4 linked regions of the Homo sapiens genome follow. The protein of the gene in region 4 interacts with the protein of the main gene of each other region in a pairwise test. Each region holds a gene or a part of one and is shown on either strand. Other genes may lie near its edges.

Region 1 (4,578 bases), on a different chromosome or scaffold from region 4:
GGCTGGTAGAAGGTCCTCAATTTTATTTGTAAAATGAATGAATCAAAGCAGTTTGTAAATAGTAAAGCTATGTACACATAAGCATTAACATCAGACATTTCAGAAATTAATTAATTCAACAAGTATTTAGTGAATGCCTTTAACTATGTGCCAGCCACTATTCTAAGGCACTCAGAATGCATAACTGGACAAAACAGAAAAGATCACTGCAGCTGACACTCTAGGAAGACAGGTAATGAAAATAAACACAGTAAGTATATTTGGAGGTGATAAATGATATGGAAAAAAGAGCAAGGGGTGAGGGGTAGGACGGACACAAATAAACGGTCCTCCTAAGGTGGTTGCAGGGAGAAACAGCCAAAAGCCCATTGTGCTTTGTGCCAAGTAAGCAAGGCAGAGCTCCCACCTGCTTTCAGCGAAAGTGGAGGTCAGAGAGGGGCAGTGACAGCCAAAGAATATAGGGTCTCATAGGTCAAGATTTCTATTTCGATGTAATTAACTTTCTAATTAAACTGATATGGTAAATAGTTTAGAGTTGCCTCAATTCTTATACCTTACATCAATAACATAAAAGATCAGAATCACATGCCAACAGTTCCCATCCACGGACTGATCTACACTTGAGGCCATTCTCTTCACTTGGTGGTCTCAAAGACTAAATAATTTTTTTTTAATGCAAAGGCAGTCAGCCTGTAATCCCAGTGCTTTGAGAGACCAAGATGGGGGACTGCTTGAGGCCAGGAGTTCTAGATCAGCCTGGGCAACACAGTAAGACCACGTCTACAAAAAATTTAAACATTAGGCGGGGTGCAGTGGTTCACGCCTGTAATCCCAGCACTTTGGGAGGCCAAGGCGGGTGGATCACTTGATGACCAGCCTGGCCAACATGGTGAAACCCTGTCTTCACTAAAAATACAAAAAAATTAGCTGGGTGTGGTGGCAGGTGCCTGTAATCCCAGCTAATTGGGAGGCTGAGGGAGGAGAATCACTTGAACCTGGGAGGAGGAGGTTGCAGTGAGCCAGGATCTATGCTACTGCACTCCAGCCTGGGTGACAACTAACATAGGCAAATGCAGTAGCACAGTTATTTTGAGAAAAGGAGGCCGGGCATGGTGGCTCACGCCTGTAATCCCAGCACTTTGGGAGGCCGAGGTGGTAGATCACCTGAGGTCGGGAGTTCGAGACCAGCCTGACCAACATGGAGAAACCCCATCTCTGCTAAAAATTAGCCGGGCATGGTGGTGCATGCCTATAATCCCAGCTGCTCAGGAGGCTGAGGCAGGAGAATCGCTTGAACCCAGGAGGCAGAGGTTGTGGTGAGAGGAGGTTGCACCATTGTACTCCAGCCTGGGCAAGAACAGCAAAACTCCGCCTCAGAAAAAAAAAAAAAAAGCCGGGCGCGGTGGCTCACACCTGTAATCCTAGCACTTTGGGAGGCCGAGGCAGGCGGATCACAAGGTCAGGAGATCGAGACCATCCTGGCTAACACGGTGAAACCCCATCTCTACTAATAAATAATAAATAAATAAATAAATAAATAAATAGCCAGGCGTAGTGGCAGGCTCCTGTAGTCCCAGCTACTCGGGAGGCTGAGGCAGGAGAATGGTGTGAACCCAGGAGGCGGAGCTTGCAGTGAGCTGAGATTGCGCCACTGCACTCTAGCCTGGTCGACGGAGCGAGACTCCATCTCAAAAAAGAAAGAAAGAAAGAAAGAAAATGCTGGGGCAGTGGCTCACGCCTGTAATCTCAGCACTTTGGGAGGCCAAGGCGGGTGGATCACCTGAGGTCAGGAGTTTGAGACCAGCCTGGCCAACATGGTGAAACCCTGTCTCTACTAAAAATACAAAAATTAGCCAGGCATGGTGTTGGGCGCCTGTAATCCCAGCTATTCGGGAGGCTGAGGCAGAAGAATTGCTTGAACCCAGGAGACAGAGGTTGCAGTGACCGGAGATCATGCCATTGTACTCCAGCCTGGGCAACAGAGCAAGAATCCATAGCAACAACAACAAAAAATTAGCCAGGTATGGTGGTACATGCCTGTAGTCTCAGCTACTTGGAAAGCTGAGGCAGGAGGACTGCTTTGAGTCCAGGAGTTCAAGGTTACAGTGAGCTATCATCATACCAATGAACTCCAGCCTGGGTGACAGAGTGAGACCCTGTCTCCCTGTCTCTGGAATAAAATAAAAATAATGCAAATTCCCTGGGATATTCCCAAAACAAACCAAGGTCTCAAGGCTCTTCAAACTAAGAATGTCCTAGGTCAGGCTTGCCTTCTCAAGACAAAACTGAACAAGTTACCAGATGGCATTTTGAGGGAAAGGTATTAGCTAGACAGACTCAAAGATTTTAACACTATGAAGTCTCATAAACCACACAACCCTCAGAGAAGTCTGGAGGAAAACAAAGCATCATTAGAAAATCGGAGGAAAACAAAACATCATTAGAAAATCCATGGTCCATGCAGCTTGACTGCTTTCTGGTACCTCCATTATAAATCCTGGCCAGGCGCAGTGGCCCACACCTGTAATCCCAGCACTTTGGGAGGCTGGGGCGGGTGGATCACCTGAGGTCAGGAGTTCAAGGCCAGCCCAACCAACATGGTGAAACTCTGTCTCTAATAAACACACAAAAAACAGCCAGGCATGGTGGCGCATGCCTGTAATCCCAGCTACTTGGGAGGATGAGACAGTAGAATCGCTTGAACCTGGGAGGAAGAGGTTGCAGTGAGCCAAGATTGCGCCATTGCACTCCAGTCTGGGCAACAAGAGTGAAAACTTCATCTCAAAAAACAAAAAACAAAACAAAACAAAAGTTTCTTCTCCTGCAATCATAAGGCTTCTTTTGTCCTAATAAACGACCATCTCGGACAAATCTTAATGTGAAAATTTTAATTGGGCCAAAGGTACAAAGCTACTTTATATTTATTACACCAAAACCATAATTTTTTTTTTTAATTTCGAGACAGTCTGTGTTACCCAGGCTGGAGTGCAGTGATGCAATCACAGCTCACGGCAGCCTTGACCTCCTGGGCCCAAGCAATCTTCCTCAGCCTCCCAAGTAACTGGGACTACAGGCATGTGCCATCATGCCCGGCTATTTTTTTTTGGTAGAGGCAGGGTTTCCCTATGTTACCCAGGCTAGTCTGGAACTCCTGGACTCAAAGGATCCTGAGGCCTCAGCTTCCCAAAATGTTAGGATTACAGGTGTGAGCTACCACAGACAATTTAGCCTAGTCCAGAATTTTTTTTTTGAGACAGTCTCACTCTGTCACCCAGGCTGGAGGGCAGTGGCGCGATCTCGGCTCACTGCAAGCTCCACCCCCCAGGTTCACCCCATTCTCCTGCCCCAGCCTCCCAAGTAGCTGAGACTACAGGTGCACACCACCATGCCCGGCTAATTTTTTTTGTATTTTTAGTAGAGACGGGGTTTCACTATGTTAGCCAGGATGGTCTCGATCTCCTGACCCCGTGATCCGCCTGCCTTGGCCTCCCAAAGTGCTAGGATTACAGGCGTGAGCCACCGTGCCCAGCCAGCCTAGTCCAGAATTTTACAAATTCCCTTCAATTTTTTTTTTTTTTTGAGACGGAGTTTCACTCTTGTTGCCCAGGCTGGAGTGCAATGGCGTGATCTTGGCTCACTGCCACCTATGCCTCCCAGGTTCAAGCAATTCTCCTGCCTCAGCCTCCCAAGTGGCTGGGATTACAGGCATGCACCAACACACTCAGCTAATTTTGTATTTTTAGTAGAGATGGGGTTTCTCCATGTTGGTCAGGCTGGTCTCAAACTCCCAACCTCAGGTGATCCGCCCGCCTCGACCTCCCAAAGTGCTGGGATTACAGGCGTGAGCCACCGCACCCGCCCAGCCAATTCCTTTCAATATTATGTTCCCTAGCTTCCTCCTTCTAAACCTGGAAGAGGAAAATATTAATTCACTAAAAAGGGAAAAATACACATTATGACTCTAAACATAAAAAGGGTCTGAGTTACATAAGTGAACTGCTCTTTCAGAGGCTCTAAGCAATTTGAAAATATCTGCACACTTTTAAATATTCAGTAACAAAAAAGCAAAAGAATATTCGGAATTCAGAATCGTGCATAACTCTCTAAAATCTCAACTTTTTTTTTTTTTTTTTTTTTTTTGAGACAGTGTTTTGCTCTGTCACCCAGGCTAGAGTGCAATGGCGTGATCTCAGCTCACTGCAACCTCCACCTGGATTCTCCTGCCTCAGCCTCCTGAGTAGCTGGGATTACAGGTGCATGCCACCATGCCTAGCTAATTTTTTTGTACTTTTTTAGTAGAAACAGGGTTTCACCATGTTGGCCAGGCTGGTCTTGAACTCCTGACCTCAAGTGATCCACCCCCTCCTTGGCCTCCCAAATTGCTGGGATTACAGGGGTGAGCCGCCATGCCCAGCCTAAAATCTCATCTTTCAAAGAGTCTGGGACTGAAAGTAAAATCATCTCTTATGCCCCTTTACCCAGCTTATTTTTATTTTTTTATTTTTATTTTTTTTTGAGACGGAGTTTATCTCATTGCCCAGGCTAGGGTGCAATTGCACAATCTTGGCTCACCGCAAC
Region 2 (4,578 bases), on a different chromosome or scaffold from region 4:
CTAAAACATGAATTGAAATAAAGGTAAATACGAAAATTAGTATAAAATAAATTGCAGTGAACTATGAAAGGAGTAAAATGGCTTGTTTCTCTAAAACAGAAGACCTTGTGACAAAGCTCCTTATAAACTTATGCAAACACACACACTATAAAAATTCCTCTGTGTTTTAACAACTGCAGAAATTGACCTTTTTGAGGCTTGATTCAGCATGATGAAAGAGGACTACAAACCACCAAAACACTTCAAATTCTTTTCAATATACTAAGTGGAACCTAAATAAATACTTGTCCTGTGCAAAAGGAACTGTGTTCTGATGTCCGAGAAGTGGATTCCCAAGCTTCATTTCCTAACTCCTTAAGGAGAGTTGAGACCTCAGAAGGGTGAGATCTCTGGGGTCCAAGGGTAAGCCAGGCCGTGCCTGAAGCTGGGCTAGGATGAGAATTTCTATTCAAAAGGACAGGGTGTGTGACAAGGGACAGGTGGAGGGCTTGACTGTGAGAAGAAGAACTCCCACACCTACAGGAAACACAATCCATGCCAAGATACAGCACCTGATGTGGCATTTCCAATGGATATGAAGTCTGGGGCAGATTCTCTTCCCCCATCCTTCACTCCCAAGAGTGCCTGCTGGTACTCAGATACTCCTCATAAGTTATATGTTACCTATTGCTGACAATGCTGCGTCAGGCAGAGCTGTGCCCTTGGCCCTGCACCACCGGCTTCCCATCTGCCACTGTCTTCCCTGGTGGCTTCTGAGATGCTCTGGAGCAGCGTCTTCCCTGAGAGAGCTGGGGCTGTGACTCTGGTGCCTCTTCCAAGGTGAGCTTTTGGCTGTCACTCATCGGCAGGGCCCACATTCTAGAACTCTACCAGAAGATCTAACTTTAAGCCACAACAAAAGCAGCCTTCTGTGAGCGGGCAGGAGTCATCCAAGGCATGTATATCCTTTTCCTCCAGGAGAAGTTGCCTTCTTTAGGGGAGCCATCATCCCAAGAGTTTCTCCTTTCTTTGGGGGGACTGAGGGTAACTTAGGCACCCTGCTAAGGATCTGATTCCTCTTCAGATGGCCTCCCGACTCAAAAAGGCACTGCTTCTGAGAAACTGTGGGTGCTTTAGAAATAAATCTCAAATGCCCACATTGGGTGAAATTCCCCAAAATTGAAATTGAGGCACAAGAGAGACACTGAAGACAGTGTTTGATGAGAGGGCAGTGGGGGAGTGGCTCATGGGCGAAAGGAGTTTGGGGCATCCACTCTCTGGAGGTGGTGGTGTGCCCTCCACTTCAACCCTACTGGAAAACTTTTCAAAACACTGCAGTGTAATTCGATGTCAAAAATCATTCTTAACAGAAAAGAGGTATAACGTAACATATAAATGAAAAACCATGAAACCATTACATAAATCTATCATTTTATTGTCTAAGAAATTTAATTATAAGGAAAAAAGGAAAGAAAATACATATCTATTATTTAGGTATCCTTCTACAATGAATGTATATTATCAGTTATTCATTTCCCTCATTCACTGATTCAAAAAAAAATAAAAATTAGTCAGGCCCTGCTCTTAGCAGTTAGAAAATGGAGCTTGGGAATCGCCTTCTCCGACATCAGAACACAGCTCTTTTCATATGGGACAAGTATTCGTTTAGGTCCCACATAGTATGTTGAAAAGAATGTAAAGTGTTCTGAGGAGTTAGAGACACAGCAACAACCATACAAAACCCCTGGCCTTACGGAGCCTTATTGTGCATGAGGGAAGGTGGGGGAGATGAAGGAACAAACTTTAACGTTAAACACTCTGCCAGATAGTCATAAGTGCCTTGGATATATTAATATAAAGCAGTGAGGGGGCACTGAGAATGTTGAGCAGAGAAACAGTTCAATTTGGGAGTAAGTCATGCAGCTTCTTAGGAAAAAGTCTTTCTAGGCAGAGGGAATGACAGATTCAAGTGCCAATGGGGTCAGCGTGCTGAGGCCAGGTCCACAATGAGTGAGCTGGTGACAGAGATAAGGTAGGGAAAAGGCTGGGGAGCAGATCCTGAGCCAAGAAGTGGCATGACGTATTTTCAAGAGAACCCCTGGGGTTTCTATGTGGAGAACAGACTAAAGGGAGCAAGGTCCGAAGTGGGGACAACTGTTAGGAGGCTATCATAAACATCCAGCCGAGACATAATAAAAGTTTGGGCCAGAATAACAGTAGAGGTATGGTCAGATTCAGTATATATCAAAATTAGGGTATAGGTAGGAACATAAAGAGATGAGAGCCTGAGCCCTGGGAGAGTCCACTATTAGCAGTCCAGAGAAGAGCAGAAAGAGCAAAAAGGCTTGAGGAGAGGAAATAAGGTGGGAGAAGGAAAACCAGAAGACTAGCATGTTGAAAGCCAAGTGAAGACAGTGCATCAAGATTGGGGAATTAATCTACAATAAGATGAGGACTGATCAAAGATTGGTTGATTAGTAATGTAGAGCTTCTTGCTTTTGACCAGAGTATTTTCAATAGAATGGTGACAAAAGTGATTGGAGGGTGTTCAAGAGAGCATGGGAGTACAAAAATTGTAGTTAGCATGAGATTTGCTTTAAATAGAAGAGGAGAATGAGATTTCAGCTGGTAAGATCAAGAGAAGTTTTTTTTTTTTATTTAAAGATGGGTAAAATAAAAGAAAATGTTAAGGGGGAAAATAGAAATTTTTTACTGGAATTGGTGAAATCTAAGACTATCATATTTATTCCAGGAAAAACAAACCACTAATTGGTGGAATATTTTCAGATCTTTGGGCACTTTGCCCCTGACCACCATCCTCAAGGTCAGAATCAGGAAGAAACAGCTCAAGGTTATTGGAGAAAGTAAAGATGTTTTCAAAGCAGTATAGTGACCACCTCTGGCTTCCATTCGTAAATTTGTCTTACATTCCATCAGCCTCCTTACTCTCCTGGGCTTATCTTCTTTGGATCTTTTTTCCCCAGTGCCTGCTTCTCCCTCCCCATCTCAGCATTAATTGTCTGAAATCCAGGGTCTATAGACACACTGAATTAAGTCCCTTAAATCAAACTTTGTGTGCTTCCAAGAAAATCTGTTTCTTGAAGAAAAACTCAAATATTGCGAAACTCAAGTATTGCAAATCAGTATGGTTTATTCTTTGAGGATCAGGAGGCCACAAGCAGTCAAGACTTCCTCAGCTCACAAAAGAATATGCTATCTCCAGCCATCTGAGACCAAAATGATGGAGTAAAGGTCAAAGGAGAAGTCATGCTCTTAATATTCACAAAGTCGTGATTTCTTAAAATGAAAATCCAATCCATGCAAGACAAGATTCATGATCAAATAGATTTATTGAGCACTTTATATTAGTCTGCCTCCCCCAGTCACACAGAAACACCCTCTGAGGATTTGTAATGATGACATACTGAGAATCCAAAAGCAATACAAACATATGTTAAGAACATAATTTCATCTACTCCTTTCTCTTGAACAATTTAGACTAAAGCCACTAGGTAGGACCAAGGAAGATAGGCTTCTACATGGGCTGGCCTGGAGCGCAGAGCCCATGTGTGAAGGAGACAGCGTAATGATACATGACTGGTTACCTACTGCAATTGAATAGTAAGCCAGTTTTCTCACTGGCTGAGAAGGGAGTAGCAAAAATGAAAGGAAAAAAAAAACTAGAATGAACCATGTAGTGTTGGATTAGAATGAAGGCATCAGTTTAAACACCTGTATGGATTAGAACTGGAGGTTCAGAAATAAATATAGATGTAAATGTGTATATATGTATGAGTGTGTGTGGGGAGGGATGTGTGTATTCAAACTTAACACCCCTTGCTTTGTCCATTGAGAGGACCTGGTAGCAGTGCCACCTGATAGCACTGAGCATGACCAGAGCACAGGTTCTAACTTCCACATATTATTCTCCAGGAAAAGTAACCAGGGCTTCTTGAAAAATGGTTTATCCTAGGACTGGGGCAGGAAAAGTATAGATGATCTTGAAATATCTTGCTGTGCCGGAAAGCAAGGAAGTGCCCAAACACATCAAAAGAACATAGAAACCAATTTGAAGAGGCTTCCACTGGCCAAATCTAGGACATTATGAACAGCAAAGTAAACAACGAGAGCAAATAGAACAAAATTAGAAGGCTTGAGTCCACACTGATACAAATAAAGTATAATTCAGAAGATTAATGAAGAATGGGATATGTACATGGTTTTAAAATATTTCCCTACCAAATCTTACTAATTAAAAAGAAAAAATGTATCATTTCACAGTGAAGAAGGCTGGCAGACAACAGTCAATCAGGTGATCAAAGTGAACATCAGGATGCAATTGGAACAGAGTATTATCCCTGATATTCCTGCCAAAGGTAAGTAACTTGAATCTAATTATGAGGAAACATCAGACAAACCCAAATCAAGGAACATTCTACAAAATAACTGGCCTGCAATCTTTAAAAGCACTAAAGTGCAAGGAAGACTTAGGAACTATTCCAGACAGAAAGAGACCACAGAGACACCACACTTAAGTGTAATGCTTGCATTTAAATCTTTTTTTTTTTTTTTTTTTTGCTATGAAGAACATACAAAGAA
Region 3 (4,578 bases), on a different chromosome or scaffold from region 4:
GGCGGCCAGGGTAGGGACAGCTCGACCTGCAGGAGGGTCAGGCCACATTGGATCATGACTTGAAGCAGAGCATGGTGGTCCCTGGGTTCACACCACCATAGTGAGCAGATACAGATGCGAAGGGGAGAGGAGATGCACGTCCCAAACAGAGGAATTCCACCCTCGAGAACGCCCGGCTCCCGGCAGGCTGTGCAGAGCAACTGAGCACTTTTCTCTTTATTCTTTCTTTTTTGTTGTTGCTTTTTTGAAACAAGGTCTTGCTCTTTTGCTCAGACCAGAGTGCAGTGGCACGATCTCAACTCATTGCAGCCTTGACCTCCCAGGCCCAAGTGATCCTCTCACCTCAGCCTCCCAAGTAGCTGGGACTACAGGCGCACACCACTGCATCTGGTTAATTTTTAAAACACATTTTATAGAGATGAGGTTTCACCATGTTGCCCAGGCTGGTCTTGAACTCCTGGGAGTGAGCCACTGCCCCCAACCCATTTATAACATTAAACCAAATTATCTTTAAGAAAAGTGGCCAGGTGCCTTGGCTTACTCCTGTAATCCTAGCACTCTGGGAGGCCAAGGCGGGCAGATTGCTGGAGTCCAGGAGTTCAAGATTAGCCTGAGCAATGTGGTGAAACCCCGTCTCTACAAAAAATTTAAAAATTAGCCAGGTTGGCTGGGTGCGGTGGCTCATGCCTGTAATCCCAGCACTTTGGGAGGCTGAGGCGGGTGGGTCACGAGGTCAGGAGATAGAGACCATCCTGGCCAACATGGTAAAACCCCGTCTCTACTAAAAATACAAAAATGAGCCGGTGTGGTGGTGGGTGCCTATAGTTCCAGCTACTCAGGAGGCTGAGGCAGGAGAATCGCTTGAACCCGGGAGGTGGAGGTTGCAGTGAGCTGAGATCGCACCACTGCCCTCCAGCCTGGGCGACAGAGTGAGACTCCATCTAAAAAGGCCGGGTGCGGTGGCTCACGCCTGTAACCCCAGCACTTTGAGAGACCAAGACGGGCGGATCACGAGGTCAGGAGATCGAGGCCATCCTGGCTAACACGGTGAAACCCAGTCTCTACTAAAAAATACAAAAAAATTAGCCGGGCGTGGTGGTGGGCGCCTGTAGTCCCAGCTACTCGGGAGGCTGAGGCAGGAGAATGGCGTGAACCCAGGAGGCGGAGCTTGCAGTGAGCCGAGATTGCACCACTGCACTCCAGCCTGGGCGACAGAGCAAGACTCTGTCTCAAAAAAAAAGCCAGGCATGGTGTAATTGGACTGTGGTCCTGGGAGATGGAGGCTGCAGTGACCTGACATCACACTGCTGCATTCTAGTCTGGGCAACAGAGTGAGACCCTATCTCAAAAAATTAAAAAGTTAGGTGAGGCTGGGTGCTGTTTACACCTGTAATCCCAGCACTTTGTGGGGCTGAGGCAGGCAGATTGCTTGAGGTCAGGGGTTCCAGACCAGCCTGGCCAACATGGCAAAACCCTGTCTCTACTGAAAATACAAAAATTAGCTGGTCGTGGTGGCTCACGCTTGTAATCTCAGCTACCTGGGAGGCTGAGGCAGGAGAATCACTTGAACCCAGGAGGCAGAGGTTGCAGTGAGCCAAGATCACAACACTGCACTCCAGCCTGGGCGACAGAGTGAGACCCCATCTTAAAAAAAAAAAAAAAAAGAGTTATAAATAGTATTCCATTAGGCACTTGCACTGTGATTAGAATTACAGCACAATTCTTGCAGTAGCAAAGATGTTATAAAAACTCGTTCAGAAAACATACGTGCTTCTCTGGTGGCGTTTTACAGCCGTCTTGACTTGGAGACGTTTGTCAGCCAGGCCAGGTGGGAGGGCTGGTCCCATGCGGGGGGTCCAGGCTGCGTCCGCCGCTAGGGCCGTGGCTGCTGTGCAGGTCACCCCAGAGGGGCTGGGATAGCTGGGCGTGGCCTCCCAGGAGCTGACTGAGGTCCTACCCAGTGTGGCGGGGGCCTTTTCCTCCTTGGGACCCTGCTGTTCTCAGGTGGTACACTGGGGTCTGGAAGGGAGGGAGAATGGAGACACAGGTTGAGGTTGGGTGCACACGCCCGCCTTCTCCCCTGGGATAGACGCCACGGGCGTCCAGAGCTGCAGGATTTGCTCCATTTGTGAAGTGCCCTCCTGGAGTCCCGAGGGGTGGTGTGGTTACACCTGCAGTCCCTGGACGGCAGGGTCCGGCCTTGGAGCCCCTCCTGGGAGCTGTGCAGCCCGGGTTTGGTCGCGTTTCTCAGACGCCCCTGCCTTGCTGTTACAGACGGCCAATGGGAACGTGGAGGCCAAAGTGGTGTGCTTCTACCGGAGGCGGGACATCTCCAGCACCCTCATCGCCCTGGCCGACAAGCACGCAAGTGAGTCCGGCCTTCCCTGGGGTGCCCGCCTGGCGGGAGGGTCGGCTGGGGAGGGCTGGCGGGGTCCTTCTTCCCTAGGGCCCATCGGCATCCTGGCCTCGTGGGGCCACCCTCTGCCCAACTCACTCTGGCGTCTCTTTTTCTCCCTTCCACAGTGGGCGGGGGTGTCCTGGCTCCGTTTCCTCGGGGGCTGGGTGAATGAAGTCCTCGCACGCCCCCCGGAGTGGTCTGTCTCTCACTGGCATCCTCTGCAAGCTTGTCATGGTGTGGCTGGGTGTGGGCATCATTGATCGAGGCTTCTTTTTCCCTTCTATGATGACTTCTGGAGACTTTCCAGGCTGGTGGGACCCTGCTGCCTGCACTTGCCAATGTCTCTCTCTTTTTAATTTTGCGGAGAGGCTTCTGTTGGGATTCTGAGTAGTGTTTTCAGGAAAGCAGTCCTCTCCTTATTCTTTACGATTCAAACCCAAGTTTAGTAACCTGGCTGGGAGGGGCTGCTGTGGCCAGCACAGCGTGTGGGAGGAAGCCACTGGCTGCATGGGAATGCCCTCAGCCTTGGGGACCCAGCTTCTCCCCCGGGAACAGGTGCTCGCAGGTGGTGGAGTCTCCTGTGCCGGGGGATGTTGACTTCAGAGCCAGGAGCCAGAGGCACCCCCACGCCCTCCACATGCTACTGACACAGGGCCTGCCGAGCTGGGCCCCACCTGCACCAGACACAGTGTGGTACCCCACTGAGGCCCTTCATGTGTCGGTGGGGGCAGGCATGAGGGGCATTTTTGGCTTCCACTCTGACACATCACCTGGGGTGGGATCTGAGCCCAGGCTGAGGCTGTGGTCTGTAGGGTGACATTTCCCAGTAGGTGAGGCATGTGACTGCCCGGGTACCCGTGTCGCTGGGGTGGGCCAAGGTCCCACCTGTAACCTCCCACGACCCCTAATGGGGTGAGGTCCAGGGACTGTGGGTTTGCGGTGGGTCGGGTGGGAGGACCCTCGCATCTTCTGCCCCGTCCCAGCGCTGTGGGTGAGGGGCAGGAAGTCAGCCCAGGCAACCTCCCCCTGCTCTGGGAGGGGCTTAGGGACAGGACAGACCATCCTGCCACCGATGCCTTGTTCCTGAGCCTTTGCTGGGAGTCGGCCAGGGCAGGCGCTTGTGGAAGGAAGGTGTCCCTTAACCCCACTGCCTTGCCCACCGGACAGCTGGGACCTTTCCTCAGCAACCAGTGGATGCGGACGTGAGCTGCCCTGGGTCAGTGCAGCTGGGCCGGGCCCCCGAGCCTGGGTCCACTCTGGACACTGGGCTGTGGGGCCTGTGGCTGGCCCAAAGGGAGCTGCCAGTTGACCATGGGCTTTCTCTGGCTTTGTGAGGAACTGGACCTCCTAGCTCTCTGCTCAGAGGAGGGGAGCGTTCAAGGTGGGGCATGGTGATCCTTGACCTCTGACCCCAAAGCCTGTGTACTCCACTGCTGCACTCGGCGGGCTCCAGGCACCAAGGAGGAGAGCTGGGGATGTTGAAGGTCCACAGGCTACACATTCTGGAGGGGTGTTTGGTGTGGCCCTTGGCCCTGCAGGTGCTGGGTGCCAGTCAGCAGCACGGCTGGCGGTTCTTAGTGTTGGAGGCTGGCCTATGTCGACTCTGCAGGGCTGGCCCGCTGGAGAAGCAGTGGTGGGGAGCGGCCTGGCTCGCTGGAGAAGCAGTGGTGGGGAGCGGGCTGGCCCGCTGGAGAAGCAGTGCCCAGGCTGAGCGGCCGCAGTGTGGCCCTGCCAGTCTGTGTGGCCTGGGGAGTCAGGCGCCACCGTTGAGTTGGGCATGTTTATGGCTGGCCCAGGGTGGATCCTGTCTCTGTCCTCTGGCACCTGGGGGCACAGTGTCCCTGCTCCAGAGAGCCTGTATCAGTGGTTTAGTGGTTTTTGAGGGTACTGTGGCCCCCTTGGCTGAGGTTCTGCTCTCAGACGCCCCAGAGGATGGCCTTTTGCTGGAAGAGCCCCAGAAGGGGACTCCAGACATAACGTGATTAGAGGTATCAGAGGGCAGGTTTTCCAGAAGGGCCTCGTTGGGGCTGATAGGACTGGGTGGAGAGCAGTGTCCCAGCTCGAGCACTGGCCCCCCCAGGTACACAGCACAGCCCCTTTGGACGGTGCTCCCTGGAAAGCTGCGTGGCGGCCCCTCTGCAGGGCGTTCCTATGAACTGAGAGCCCAGCTGCAGGGAGCA
Region 4 (4,578 bases):
CGTGCGCTTGCTCTGCTGGTCGCTCTGGAAGTTGGGGTCCAGGTTGTCCACTGCGGGGAGAGCCCGCCACACCGGGAGAGGGAGGGACAAGTGGTAAGCAAGCTAGGGGGCAGGTGGCACTTCTTTCAGGAAGGCTTCTCAGGGCCCCAAGCTGGATCAGGGCCCCTCCTGGCATTCTCCGAGCTTGCCTCCACCACAGCATTTATCAGAATAAGGAGTCAAAGGCATCAGCTCTGCCTGAATTCAAACCCTGCCTTGCTTCTCAGTACCACTGTGCACTGTGCAAGGTCCCTAACCTCTCTGTGCAAGCCAAGGCTAACAGGTATAAGCACTCAGAACAGGACCCAGCACCTATGAGTCACCACATCCCCATCGTTATGGGTTACATGTGTCTTTTCCCCACCACACTAAGTCCTTCAGGGCAAGGACTGTGTCCTTCACGACTGTACTCCTGGCCCTGTACCCAGTGCCTGGTATATACATGAAGCTTGGTCAAGGTCTGCTGAAGGAATGGGTGGCACTCACACAGCATCAGGATCACCTTCTGCAGCTCGCCCTGCTTCACGGACAGGTACAACTGCCGAGGGTGGAAACGGAGCTTCTTCCGCCTGCCAAGGGAGCACGGGAGCGGGGAGAGAAGGGGAGCTCCTCAGATTCCAGCATCAGCCTCGACACCACTCCTCTGGCCTCAGCCCCAGTTGCTGTGCCTGAGCAACTCCCCACTCACCTCTCTGACTCCTGGATGACCAGGGCCTTTTCCAGGGCCTCCCGGCCTGGCCCCAGTGGCAGCCCCACGGCTGAAAGGCAGCCCCCATTGGGCAGGGTCAGGGAGGGCCCTGAGCTGTCAATGGTGTCAGCCAGGGGATCGCAGGGCGGGCGCCGGGGTTCCCCATGCCCTCGCATCCGGGCACTGTGGAAGAAGGAGCTCATGTCCAGGAGCAATAGGGGTGGGGGAGGGAACAGACAGTACAGAAGGGGGAGGCCAGTACCTGGGCTGAGAAGTGTCTGCTCTCCCGGGGACATCCTGGGACAGGGGTGGGGGTGCAGGAGCTGCAGTGCCGGCCGGTGGGGTCACCCCGTCACCCCGGGGGATGGTCACCTCTTGAGCTTCAGAAGCATCCTCCCCACAGTGGGGACAGAAGACCATCCCATTCAGCTGAGACACACAGGCCTTGTGGAAGCGGTGGGCCACACGGAAGTCAGGGTGGCACTCCAGGAAGGTGCCCTGGGAGCAGGGAAACGACATGGTCAGGTTACTGGGGCCCCCTCTGCCACAGGGCATGCTACCTGTCTGCCCCACTGGTCACTCACCGCCGTGCAGAAGTAGCCGCAGCCCGGGCAGCAGTGGTGTTTGACCATGCGGGCGCGGTGGGTCTCACAGAGCACCATCAGGGCCACACGGCTGGATGGCCTCATGGTCTCCCGCTTGAGGATGGCGGCATTGCAGCCTGACAGCTGTGCGCAGTGAGGATGGGTGAGAAGAGAGCGTGAGGCTGGGGCCGGGGACTGGACGCCCTGGCACCTCTCCCACCAGCCCACGGCCCCACCTCTCCGTCCACACTCTCAGTGGCCATGCACTTGTGCCCCGCCCTCTCGCTGATGCGGTCAATCTTGGGTGCCTCCATGCGGCAGCTGCACAGGGGCAACTCCTCAAACCCTCGCTCTGTCTCCAGCGAAGATGTGTCATTGGACACCCCTTGGATGGAGGAAAAGAGGAGCTGAGGGAGGCTCTGCACCTCACCTACTGGGACCCCTGGCGGGTCCTCTCACTCCCTCCCTACCCCACCCCGCCATGCCCCAGAACCCCTAAAGCCTGGCCATGGACACCCCGGCTCTGGCGTGGTTCCCCTCCTTCCCTTTCCCTCCTGCCCTGAGGTCGCCCCCTAGTGGCTCCCTGTCCCGGCAATTGGCAATTACCAGCGTGGTTGGGGGAGAGGGTCCCCTCGCTGGGCAGCTCCAGGGACCCCAGAGGGACCTCCATGTACTCACTGGGGCCTGAGGAGCCCACACCATTCACTCCTGACACAGAGACAGAGAGAGTGAGAGTGCGAGCTCACAGGTGCCTGGACGCGTGGGTACATGCAGGTGGACATGCGAGAGCGTGTGTGTGCGTGCACACACTCTGGGGGGCCGGGCGGGGGCTGGAGGGCACCCAAAAGCAGCAGAGCCTCCTCACCTCGTGGCTCCTTGGCCCGCGGAGGCTCCCGCTTGCGCCGTTTCCGAGACGGCTTCACCCATGGGCTGTCTTTTCGCCATTTCTTCTTGGCCTTGCGCCGGCCACTGGAACCACTCTGGGAAGGGGGAGGAGGAGGAGTTAGGAACCCTCACCCCCAGGGGCCCCCCCAACACCTTCAGGACCAGACCTCCAGCCCCATAGTCTCCCACTCCTCTGGAGATATCAGCCTCCGTCTCTTACCCTATCTGACTGATTCCCTGACTCCTCATCTTCCTCTTCTTCTTCCTCTTCCTCCTCCTCTTCCTCTTCTTCTTCTTCCTCCTCTTCCTCCTCCTCCTCTTCACTTAGTTGTTCAGTTAGAGCTTCAACTTCAGACTGGGAGAGAGGCAGAACAGACATATCCAACCCCCAGGACTCAGACAATGAGGTGAGTAAAGAAAACCACCACCACCATTGCCCCCCGCCACTACCCACGGATGGCTGCTGGGGATAAGTGTGGGTAGCAGAGGAGACAAAGGGCCACATAAAGAGAGGGTGCATGGAATATTACACAGCAGTGAAAAAGTTACAGACAGCAATGTGCACAGATCTTGGTAATGTGATATTAAGTTAAAAAACAAAAAGCAAGTACCAGAAGATAAACATACTTTGATACCCCTTTTATGATGTTCATAAACAGGCAAGACCACCAATGGTTGCTAAAAACACTAGACACAAAGCTCATGAGAAACTTTATATGAAAGGTTCAGGCTGACATCACCTGAACCCACTGGTCAATCTTATCACTAACAAGAAAAATGACCAGATTAGATGTTCCATGCATCCTGATGTGATGTGGCCAGAAGCACTTGCACCCACTGTCAAGTCTTCTTGGCACCTGAAGCTGATTCCGCCTCTAGATCTATCAGTTTACAAGAAATATGGGCAGAGAGGATGTGTCAATCTCCACCCAATCAGCCAACTCCTAAATGTGAAAAATTCTGTAGGACAACTGAGCTGGTTTCTTTGACAAATAAATGGCAAAAAAAAAAAATCTTTCTTATTTATTTATTGAGTTTTGCTCTTGTTGCCCAGGCTGCATTGCAATGGTGTGATCTCAGCTCACTGCAACCTCCACCTCCTGGATTCAAGCAATTCTCTTGCCTCAGCCTCCTGAGTAGCTGGGATTATAGGCACCCGCCACCACACCCAGCTAATTTTCGTATTTTTATTAGAGATGTGTTTTCACCATGTTGGCTAGGCTGGTCTCAAACTCCTGACCTCAGGTGATCCACCTGCCTCCCAAAGTGCTGGGATTACAGGCGTGAGCCACCACGCCTGGGCCAAAAAATTTTTTTTTAGAAGATGAGGAAATCAGGCCAGGTGTGGTGGCTCACGCCTGTAATCCCAGCGCTTTGGGAGGCCGAGGTGGGCAGATCACGAGATCAGGAGTTTGAGACCAGCCTGGCCAACATAGTGAAACCCTGCCTCTACTAAAAATACAAAAAATTAGCTGGGCATGGTGGTGGGTGCCTGTAATCCCAGCTACTTGGGAGACTGAGGCAGGAGAATTGCTTGAACTCAGGAGGTGGAGCTTGCAGTGAGCCAAGATCACGCCACTGCACTCCAGCCTGGGTGACAGTGTGAGACTCCATCTCAAAAAACAAAAACAAACAAACAAACAAACACAAAGAAGATGGGGAAACCTAAATACTGAGAGAGACCTAAGACAAAAAAAAATTTTTTTTTTTTTGAGACGGAGTTTCGCTCTTGTTGCCGAGGCTGGAGTGCAATGGTACGATCTTGGCTCACTGCAACCTCCACCTCCCAGGTTCAAGCGATTCTCCTGCCTCAGCCTCCCGAGTAGCTGGAATTACAGGCACGTACCACTACGTCCAGCTAATTTTGTATTTTTTTCAGTAGAGACGGGGTTTCTCCATGTTGATCAGGCTGGTCTCGAACTCCCAACCTCACGTGATCTGCCCGCCTTGGCCTCCCAAAGTATTGGGATTACAGGCGTGAGCCACTGTGCCTGGCTGACCTAAGACAAATGTTAATCAAATCAAGGTGTGGGCCTCATTTGGATCTTGACAAAAACCATTTGTGAGAGCTGAGGAAATGTGAAGACTGACAGGATATTTGATGGTATTAAGAAATCGGTAAGTTTTTTTAGGTGTGAAAACAGTAGTGTAATGATGTTGAACGACAAAAAGAGGCCTTATATTTACAAATCTATATGGATATATGTTTAGGTAAAATGATATGAGGTCTGGGATTTGCTTTAAAATAACCTAGTAGGTGTGTGTGCTGGGAGATGTACAGATGGGTCAAGATGGACTGTGTACTGATAATGGCTGGAGCTGTGTATTGGGTACATGGGGGCTCCCTATTCTACTCTTTTGATTATGCTTGCAAGTTTTCAT

The links.
Region 1: the proteins of EHMT2 (region 4) and MTA3 interact in binary tests that used the Homo sapiens proteins (3 or more experiments, as listed by UniProt).
Region 2: the proteins of EHMT2 (region 4) and EPDR1 interact in binary tests that used the Homo sapiens proteins (3 or more experiments, as listed by UniProt).
Region 3: the proteins of EHMT2 (region 4) and MTA1 interact in binary tests that used the Homo sapiens proteins (3 or more experiments, as listed by UniProt).

What each region holds. Positions count from the first base shown.
Region 1 is NC_000002.12:42,570,949-42,575,526, reverse strand, and holds part of MTA3 (metastasis-associated protein MTA3), read right to left. Parts: intron 1-4,578. UniProt on the Homo sapiens protein: Acts as a component of the histone deacetylase NuRD complex which participates in the remodeling of chromatin.
Region 2 is NC_000007.14:37,926,457-37,931,034, reverse strand, and holds part of EPDR1 (mammalian ependymin-related protein 1 isoform 1 precursor), read right to left. Parts: intron 1-4,578. UniProt on the Homo sapiens protein: Binds anionic lipids and gangliosides at acidic pH.
Region 3 is NC_000014.9:105,443,144-105,447,721, forward strand, and holds part of MTA1 (metastasis-associated protein MTA1), read left to right. Parts: intron 1-2,274; coding exon 2,275-2,368; intron 2,369-4,578. UniProt on the Homo sapiens protein: Transcriptional coregulator which can act as both a transcriptional corepressor and coactivator. Acts as a component of the histone deacetylase NuRD complex which participates in the remodeling of chromatin.
Region 4 is NC_000006.12:31,887,052-31,891,629, forward strand, and holds part of EHMT2 (histone-lysine N-methyltransferase EHMT2), read right to left. Parts: intron 2,552-4,578; coding exon 2,417-2,551; intron 2,292-2,416; coding exon 2,177-2,291; intron 2,020-2,176; coding exon 1,918-2,019; intron 1,697-1,917; coding exon 1,548-1,696; intron 1,456-1,547; coding exon 1,312-1,455; intron 1,226-1,311; coding exon 990-1,225; intron 911-989; coding exon 728-910; intron 609-727; coding exon 526-608; intron 51-525; coding exon 1-50. UniProt on the Homo sapiens protein: Histone methyltransferase that specifically mono- and dimethylates 'Lys-9' of histone H3 (H3K9me1 and H3K9me2, respectively) in euchromatin.